Linked DNA regions of Homo sapiens. The protein of the gene in region 1 purifies or fractionates together with the protein of each later gene. This does not show direct contact. Each region holds a gene or a part of one and is shown on either strand. Other genes may lie near its edges.

The links.
Region 2: the proteins of DCAF12 (region 1) and YY1AP1 purify together in Homo sapiens (affinity purification with mass spectrometry; one large-scale study listed by BioGRID and IntAct). This does not show direct contact.

Annotation. Positions count from the first base shown.
Region 1 is NC_000009.12:34,091,253-34,096,623, reverse strand, and holds part of DCAF12 (DDB1- and CUL4-associated factor 12), read left to right. Parts: intron 1-3,175; coding exon 3,176-3,338; intron 3,339-5,371. UniProt on the Homo sapiens protein: Substrate-recognition component of a DCX (DDB1-CUL4-X-box) E3 ubiquitin-protein ligase complex of the DesCEND (destruction via C-end degrons) pathway, which recognizes a C-degron located at the extreme C terminus of target proteins, leading to their ubiquitination and degradation.
Region 2 is NC_000001.11:155,677,840-155,682,274, reverse strand, and holds part of YY1AP1 (YY1-associated protein 1), read left to right. Parts: intron 1-1,818; coding exon of another isoform or gene 1,819-1,838; coding exon 1,839-1,859; intron 1,860-2,266; exon of another isoform or gene 2,267-2,347; intron 2,348-2,445; exon of another isoform or gene 2,446-2,762; coding exon 2,763-2,866; intron 2,867-2,961; exon of another isoform or gene 2,962-3,167; intron 3,168-4,435. UniProt on the Homo sapiens protein: Associates with the INO80 chromatin remodeling complex, which is responsible for transcriptional regulation, DNA repair, and replication. Enhances transcription activation by YY1. Plays a role in cell cycle regulation.

The DNA of each region.
Region 1 (5,371 bases):
TTATCTATTCATTTATTTTTGAGGCAGAGTCTCGCTCTGATGCCCAGGCTGGAGTGCAGTGGTGCAATCTTGGCTCACTGCAACCTCTGCCTCCTGGGTTCAACCAGTTCTTGTGCCTCAGCCACCTGAGTAGCTGCGGGGATTACAGGCGTCTGCCAACATGCCCAGGTATTTTTTTTGTATTTTTAGTAGGAACACAGTCTCACCATGTTGGCCAGGTTGGTATTTTTATTTTTAAAGACAATAAATACAGGGTCTCACTCTGTCACCCAAGTTGGAGTGCAGTCATGGCTCATGGATCAGTGCAGCCTTGAACTCCTGGGCATAAGCGATCCTCTTGCCTCAGCCTCCCAAGTAGCTGAGACTATGGGCATGTGTCACCACACCCATCTGGTTGTTTTTTTTGTTTTGTTTTGTTTTTTTAATTTTTTGTAGAGACAGAGTCTCACTATGTTTCCCAGGCTGGTTTTGAACTCCTGACCTCAAGCGATCCTCCCACCTTGGTCTCCCGAAGTGCTGGGCATTCAGGCATGAACCATTGCACCTGGTCTCAATTCTTGTTTAAAAGACCAGTTCTCCAAAGGCCTGGGCATGTTTTTGCACAGTACATGAAATTTTGAGTCTGGTGTGCCTCTCTTGCAGGAAAGTCTTTTAAAGAGTAAGACAGGGTGATTCTTTCCTATTGCATAAGCTTCCTGAGAGGCTCCTTTGACTAGCAGTCCTCCTCAACAATGCATTTAAGTATTTCTTTATAGATTGATGACTACTTGGCATGCTGTAAGGGAAGGAAATCCTGAGTGTTAGGAACCTTTGGCAATTGAAGATCGATCAAATTAAGATAAACCATCTCTGAAATAATCATGTAAGGTAATGAGAAAATAGACTTAATTTACAATACAAATTGGTCATCCCTAATCCAGAATGCTCCAAAATCCAGTTGGGCACAATACCTTAGGCCTGTAATCCCAACACTTTGGGAGGTTGAAGCAGGAGGATTGCTTGAGCCCAGGAGTTCAAAACTAGCCTGGGCAACACAGTAAGACCCTATCTCTGCAACAAAATTTAAAAATTAGCCATACATTGTGGCATATGCCTGTAGTCCCAGCTACTGGAGGGTAGCAGTGCTGAGGCAGGAGGACCACTTGAGCTGAGGAGGTCAAGGCTGCAGTGAGCCGTAATTTTGCCACTGCACTCCAGCCTGGGTGACAGAGCGAGACCCTATCTCAAAAAAAAAAAAAAAAAAAAAAAAAAGGCCTGGCGCGGTGGTTCACGCCTATAATCCCAGCACTTTGGGAGGCCGAGGCAGGTGGATCATGAGGTCAAGAGATTGAGACCATGCTGGCCAACATGGCGAAACCCCGTCTCTACTAAAAATACAAAAATTAGCTGGGCGTGGTGGTGGGCGTCTGTAGTCCCAGATACTTGGGAGGCTGAGGCAGGAGAATCGCTTGAACCCAGGAGGCAGAGGTTGCAGTGAGCCGAGATCATGCCACTGCACTCCAGCCTGGCAACAGAGCAAGACTCTCTCTCAAAAAAAAAAGCCTCCAAAGTCCAAAACTTTTTGAGCACCAACACAATGCCACAAATGGAAAATTTCACATGGGACACCTTTGCTTTCTGACAGGTCAGTGTACCAAACATTGTTTAATGCAGAAAATTATTTAAAATATTGCATAAAATTACCTTCACTCTATGTGTATAAGATGTATATGAAACATAAATGAATTTTGTGGTTAGACTTGGGTGCCATCCCCAAGATAGCTCCTTACATATATGTAGATATTTAAAAATCGGGGCCGGGTGCGGTGGCTCACGCCTATAATCCCAGCACTTTGGGAGGCCAAGGTGGGCGGATCGCAAGGTCAGGAGATTGAGACCATCCTGGCTAACATGGTGAAACCCCGTCTCTACTAAAAATACAAAAAATTAGCCGGGCGTGGTGGTGGGCGCTTGTAGTCCCAGCTACCCGGGAAGCTGAGGCAGGAGAATGGTGTGAACCCAGGAGGTGGAGCTTGCAGTGAGCTGAGATCGCGCCACTGTACTCCAGCCTGGGCGACAGTGCGAGACTCCGTCTCAAAAAAAAAAAAAAAAAGCTGGAGAAATCCGAAATTCAAAACATTTGTAGTCACAAGCCTTTTGGATAAGGGAGATTCAACAAGCAACTTTTACATAGAGTTAAACCTACCTGTGAATCATTTGTCTTTTTTTTATTTTTTTTGAGACAGAGTCTCACTTTGTTGCCCAGGCTAGAATGCAGTGGCACGATCTCAGCTCACTGCAACCTCCGCCTCCCAGGTTCAAGTGATTCTCCTTCCTCAGCCTCCTGAGTAGCTGGGATTACAGGCATGCACCACTACCCCTAGCTAATTTTTGGTATTTTTAGTAGAGATGGCATCTCACCAGGTTGGCCAGCCTGGTCTCAAACTCCTGACCTCAGGTGATCTGCCTGCCTTAGCCTCCCAAAGTGCTGGGATTACAGACGTTAGCCACCACGCCCAGCTTTTTCTCTTCTTCTTATCCTTGAGGACTTTGCAAGAGGAAGCAGGGTTCCAGGAATTAGTGATTCCTTCATGTCACAATAGCCTTTGAGCTCCACTGACCTTGTATGCTGTCTTATGTGTTGTATGCACCCACTGAGGATTTGCTAACTGACGAAGACCCAGGGTTAAGGCTGATGTGGGTTATCTGGGATTAAGCTAGTCCCATGGGCGTGCTTTCTATAGCGTACAATTCCCATTCAGGTGGGAAGGTGAGCTGGGGGTAGCCAGAGATCAGCCTCTTTATCTGAAAAGCACTGAGGTGGCCCTTCCTGGCAGACAGAACAGAGTGGGACTATGGCTTTAGTGCCCTGGAACGATTCCCAGAAACAACCTGAATAGTTGAAACAGCCTACCAAGAAAGGCCTTGGCCTTTCCAGCTACTTCTGATTATTTATTCCAGATTTACCTTTTCCCCAACCTATCTCCTTCAGTATCTAGGTCTTACCGTTTATTAACATTCACCTCCTCTTTCTCCTGTATACCTAGGGGTGGAACAGAGTGTTATTTCTGTAATCAGGGCTTGATTTTATGTGGCTTTTATATGAGGGAAGCCCATCAAGGTGGGAGTCCAGAAACAATATCCCTGCCTTACCCTCTCTGCTGATGCCATGGTTATATCTCTCCTCTATTTTCAGCTCCTCTCCACCAAACTGCCATATTGCCGTGAGAATGTGTGTCTGGCTTATGGTAGTGAATGGTCAGTTTATGCAGTGGGCTCCCAAGCTCATGTCTCCTTCTTGGATCCACGGCAGCCATCATACAACGTCAAGTCTGTCTGTTCCAGGGAGCGAGGCAGTGGTAAGAGTCCCTGTGTGCACCTCAGGCCTACAGCTGCACTGCATATGGGTTCTGACTTTCAGTTTCTTTGTTGGTTTCCAAACAGGTATAGTGCTCTGTATGGAACATTTGGAAGTGTGTTCAAAAAGGGGAGCGATGGCTAGGCGTGGTGGCTTACGCCTGTAATCCCAGCACTTTGGGAGGCCGAGGCGGGTGGATCACCTGAGGTCGGGAGTTTGAGATCAGCCTGACCAATAAATATGGAGAAACCCCGTCTCTACTAAAAATACAAAATTAGCCGGGCGCAGTGGCGCATGCCTGTAATCCCAGCTGCTCAGGAGGCTGAGGCAGGAGAATTGCTTGAACCTGGGAGGCGGAGGTTGCGGTGAGCTGAGATCGCACCATTGCACTCCAGCCTGGGCAATGAGCGCGAAATTCTGTCTCAAAAAAAAAGGGGTGTGGGGGGAGTGACACAAAAGGGCACTAGACTTTCAAACACCACAGACAAATGTGTGGCCACAGAAGCCTTTGTTGGGAGCCACCAGTCAGGATATTAGTTAGTAGTTTCCATGTTCTTTTAGAAAGCTCTACTTTTTTTTTGTTGTTGTTGTTTTTTTTTTTTGAGACAGAGTCTCGCTCTTTTGCCAGGCTGGAGTGTAGTGGCGTGATCTCAGCTCACTGCAACCTCTGCCTTCTGAGTTCAAGTGATTCTCCTGCCTCAGCCTCGCGAGTAGGTGGGACTACAGGCACACACCACCACGCCCAGCTAATTTTTGTATTTTTAGTAGAGACGGGGTTTCACCATGTTGGCCAGGATGGCCTTGATCTCTTGACCTTGTGATCCACCCACCTCGGCCTTCCAAAGTGCTGAGATTACAGGCGTGAGCCACTGCACCTGGCCGAGAGCCCTACTTTCTATCCTGTGGTAATTTTTTTGCTGTGGTCCTGCCTGAACTAAAATTCTATTTATGCTAAGATGTGGCATGGTGGGATAAGGAGGAAGTTTACAAAGGGCATGAGGAAACCTCAGGGTAATGAGTATGTTCATTATGTAGATTGTGGTTATGATGTCATGGATATATACATATGTCAGAACCTCAAATTGTATACTTTATGTGTCGTATATTGTATGACAAACCTCAATAAGGCTGAAGAAAATACTGAGTTTAGTTCTGACCACTGAGTAAATTAAGCTTCCACCTCAAATCTTTTATAACATATTCTCTGTAAGAGCACCCTCATTCTTTATTGAAGAGGGAAAAAATACTTATTTTAGTGTACTTTGAAGGTTTCAAAATACCTTTTTCTGACATGCCATTTCATCATACCAAGAACCCTGTGGGAAGCAGATGAGAAAACATAGTTTTACATATAAGACCTAGAGCCAGCTAAATAACTTGCCCAGCATCACACAGCTTGATGGGGGAACAGCTAGGGACCAGAATCCAACTTAACAAATTGTATTTTCTTTATCTCACTTTATCCCATTTCTCGCTTTATCCCATTTCTCATGCAAAAATATGGCTGTGTTATCCTGAGAGTCCTAAAAGGCACACTGTGGATTGCAGTTCACCCTCTCTTTTTCAAGTAGTGTTTATTCCTGTGCAGATACTGCAAAGTAGCTTTTGTTTTGGGTTTTTTGTGGTTTTTTTTTTTTTTTTTTTTTTGAAGACAGGGTCCTCACTCTATCAGCCAGGCTGGAGGAAAGTGGTGCAATCTCAGTTCACTGCAGCTTTTCCACCTGCCAGGCTCAAGCAGTCCTCCCACCTCAGCCTCCCGAGTAGCTGGGACTATAAGCGTCCGCCACCTCATTCAGCTAATTTTTGTATTTTTGTAGAGACAGGTTCTCATCATGTTGCCCAGAGTTGTCTCAAACTCTTGGGACACCCACCTCAGCCTCCCAAAGTGTGTGCTAAGATTACAGGGATTACAGCCGTGAGCCACTGTGCCCAGCTATTTCTTTTTTGTTGTTGTTGTTGTTGAGATGAGTCTTGCTCTGTCACCTAGGCTGGAGTGGAGTGGTGTGATCTCAGCTCACTGCACCCTCTGCCTCC
Region 2 (4,435 bases), on another chromosome or scaffold:
ACATAAGGTAAAACAAATGAATAAAAATTAAAAAAAAATGAGATAGCCAAAGATTTGAAGCTCTTTACCCATTAACATGATAATCATTTCGACTTTGAATATTTGTAGAACAAGAGTCAGAACTCAGAACAAAGATCTCTGAGGAAATAAAAAAAAATCAAGCTGCCTCCTAATTTCTCATTTAGTCTGTCATTGGGCATTGTCAAACTGTCAAACTATATTTAGAGATTCTGGTTTTCATCTGGAGACTTAGTGAGTTGTGTAATATCTTGAATACACATATAAGATCTTGCCAGGTGGGGTGGCTCATGTCTGTAATCCCAGCACTTTGGGAGGATGAGGTGGGAGGATCGCTGGAGCCCAGGAGTTCAAGACCAGCCTGGGCAACATAGCAAGTCCCTGGCTCTATTTAAAAAAAAAAAAAAAAAAAAATCCTCAATGTAGAACTTTAAATTTATCCTTACGTGTTACATCCAGTTGATTTGAGAAAATATGATTCTGAATTTTCCATCAATTGGATTGGCAGTCCCTTTCAGCTTTACAGCTTTACATCATCTACAGATTTGTTAAGTATGTTCTCTTGGTCTTCTAATTCACTGATGGAGTTTTTGAATAGGTCGGGTCCAAAGATAGAGTCCTATGAAACACTGTTGGAAACTTGTCTCTGTCTGTCTCTTTTTTTTTTGGAGACAGTGTCTTGCTCTGTCGTTCAGGCTGGAATGCAGTGGGACGGTCTCAGCTCACTACAGCCTCTGCTTCTTGGACTCAAAGAGATTCTCTCACCTCAGCCTCTCAAGTATATGGGACTATATGCATGTGCGACCAAGCCCAGATAAATTTTTTTTTAGAGATATGTTGACATTTTGCCCAGGTTGGGAGACTTGTCTCTTGATTCCATTCAGTATTGTGTGGGTTTGGATAGGCCATCTAATTATAAAATCATTGGGCTGGTCATGGTGGCTCATGCCTGTAATCCCAGCACTTTGGGAGGCTGAGGTGGGCGGATCACCTGAGGTCAGGAGTTTGAGACCAGCCTGACCAATATGGAGAAACCCCATCTCTACTAAAAACACAAAATTAGCTGGGCGTGGTGGTGCATGCCTGTAATCCCAGCTACTTGGGAGGCTGAGGCAGGAGAATAGCTTGAACCTGGGAGGCGGAGGTTGCAGTGAGCCAAAATCGTGTCATCGCACTCCAGCCTGGGCAACAAGAGCGAAACTCCGTCTCAAAAAAAAAAAAAAATCATCTAGCTCACATTTTCTCCTTGTCTTCTTCCTATTAGAATTTAAGTTCAATGAGATTAGAACTCTCTCTCTCTCTCATTCTCTCATATATCCCAAGCATCTAAAACAGGGATTGAAACATAGTAAGTACTCAATAAATGTTTTTGAATAAATGAATGAAGGATAGCTGGGCGTGGTGGCTCATGCCTGTAACCCCAGCACTTTGGGAAGCCAAGGTGGGTGGATCACTGGAGCTCAGGAGTTCAAGACCAGCTTGGGCAACATGGGGAAAACCCATCTCTACAAAATATGGAAGAATTAGCCGGGCATGACAGCACACTCCTGTTGCCCCAGCTACTTGGAGGGCTGAAGTGGGAGGATCGCTTGAGCCTGGGAAGCAGAGATTGCAGTGAGCCGAGATCAAGCCACTGCCCTCCAGCCCGGGTGACAGAGTGAGACCCTGTCTCAGGAATAAGGATAGATATGAAGAATTCGTCAGATGCCTTGTTGAAAACATCATACATTGTCTACATGGAATTCCTCCATATTGTAAAATGAATCTAATTTATACCAACAACGTTTGGCTTTTTTGCAGAAAAGGAAGCAAATGAGCTGATGGAAGATCTGTTTGAAACTGTGAGTAATGATCCTCAAGTGAGAACATGGGATTGTAAGTTGGTTCTCCAACAAAATGTGTCCTTTGATCTCTGTGATGCTCCTTCTAGAAGAGGGACTGAACCAATTCTCCTTTTAGTCTACCTGGGAAAGAATATAATGACAAAAGAAATTTGCTAACTGCTAGACTCTTGATTATCCACATGTAGGTTATTCTTACTAAAATTTTCCTTGAAGCTTTTTTTTTTTTTTTTTGAGGCAAAGTCTTGCTCTGTCACCCAGGCTCTGGAGAATACAGTGGTGAAATCTCAGCTCACAGCAGCCTCGACCTCCAGGGCTCAAAACAATTCTCTCATCTAAGCCTCCTGAGTAGCTGGGACTACAGGCACACACCTACAGGCCCGGCTAATTATTTTATTTTTTTGTAGAGACAGGGTCTTGCCATGTTCTGGAACTCATAGGCTCAAGTAATCTTCCTGCCTCAACCTCCCAAAGTGCTGGAATTACAGGTGTGAGCCAGCACATCTTGCCCCTTGAAAACTTTTGATGGCTTCCCCTACTGTCATTTGGTGTGTCCTTAAAGATTGCCAACTAGTTTTAAAGTATTTTGCACACAAATAATTACCTTTTCCATAAATTTGTCTAAAAAGATATTTCTGTTTAAGAAATTGATCATTTTGAGTTATCCTAGCTCTGTGCTTACTGATACAAGTTGACTGGTTGAGCAACTTCTTTCCTGGCATAATAGTCATTCCATATGTGGGTTTGTAGGAGTCCTGAAGTGAGAAAGGTTCTGATGTAGGCTCTTTCTGGGTGCCAGCATTATTAAAGTATTGTTTATAGTTTTCACTTTTCCTTCCCAACACTGGAGCAACATTCAAAAGCCCATTCCCCAGGAAAACCCTCCCTTTCCTTTGCCCACAGTTCCAAGATGAGATGGGATTCTCCAACATGGAAGATGATGGCCCAGAAGAGGAGGAGCGTGTGGCTGAGCCTCAAGCTAACTTTAACACCCCTCAAGCTCTACGGTAGGCTAGTTGAAGACCTTGAGATTTGGAATAGAGGAAGAGTTTATTTCTGAAAAGGTTTTCAGAAGTTGCAGTTAACAATTTTTCATCCCCAGCCAGCTTCTGTTACTGATGTAAGGATGCAGAGTCCTGTCAGGAGTTAGGTGTCAAGTGAAGTCTCCTTGTTATGGGGCAGTGCAGCTGTAGGCCAAGCTGTATCTGTTTGGGAAGGGAGAAAAAACAGTAGCTGGCATCCATATCCACTTCTCCGGGTGAGTGGTGCTGGAGAGGTATGTAGGACTCAATGTGGCCAGCCACACAAACTACCCTATATTGTAATATCCAGTCTGTCCCTTTTGTTCTTTTTATGTGCCATTAATATCTGCTAAATGTGACTGAAAATTTGTTAGTCACCTAGGCATTAGTGGAGCAAACCCTGAAGCACCTGCAGTAAGGAGTCTGAAACATACGTGCTGACCTTTTTGCCTAAAGTTGGCACTTGTGTTACAGCATCCAGAAAGTAGAGGCTTTAATTTTTTCCTCATTTTGTGGTGGATTTGCATCTGCACTTTATTCTGTTGTAGCAGCATATAATCATTAGGTCGATGGCGAGAGGTCAGGATGCAGTTTGTGCCATAAGTGGAACAAAGCAAAGAGAATAGTCCCTGTAATTAGTCCTGTGTTTGAACTTAACAGCACTACTAAGCAGAGAGCTTGGGTTCCATCTGAAAGCTAGACCTTTAGGGATTTTCCAATTTAGTGAAAAAAGATAAGATAGGCCAACCAATGTCTTAAAAACTAGAACTACTAGTCATTCTCCATTACAACAAATATCACAATACAACTACATCAAAAATCTCAAGATTGCTAAGTCAGTATTTGACCCATTATTTTAATTTATAGTTCATAGAACAAAATTCTGGTATAGCAGAATGGAACCATTCATCCTGGGAACGTATAATAGGATCTGATTAATAAATATTTTGGTTTTGCTGATCAACTCTTTATAACTTCTTAAAATTTGGAAAATATAGAACTAATTTAAAATTCCTGTTAGAATCCAGTTACCTTCTGGTATTCAATGGAATATAGTCATATATCATCTCATGGTCATACCCTCTGTGAAATCTATCATTAAACGATTCATCATTGTGTAAACATCGTAGAATGTACTTACATAAACCTAAATGGTTTAGCCTACTGCATACCTATTGCTCCCAGGCTACAAAACCTGTACAGTGTGTTACTGTACTGTACTGAATACTGTAGGCAGTTGTAACACAATGGTAAGTACATATGTATGTAAACATAGAAAAGGTACAGTAATCTTATGGAGCCACCTCTGACTATGTGGTTCGTTATTGACTGAAACATTCTGTGGCGCATGACTGTACTTGGGCAGCTTCTGCTTCTCTTTCGATTGCAAATACAAACCTGTTTTTGTTTTAATCTTTGACTAAATAAAAATCCCTCTGTAAGTCCATAGAGAGTAAGCACATCTTAAAACACAATAAGGAAGAGAGAGGAGAAAAAGACAGTCAAAACAAAAACTCTGGGGCTTCCCTTATCAATTACCTAAATAATCCTTGT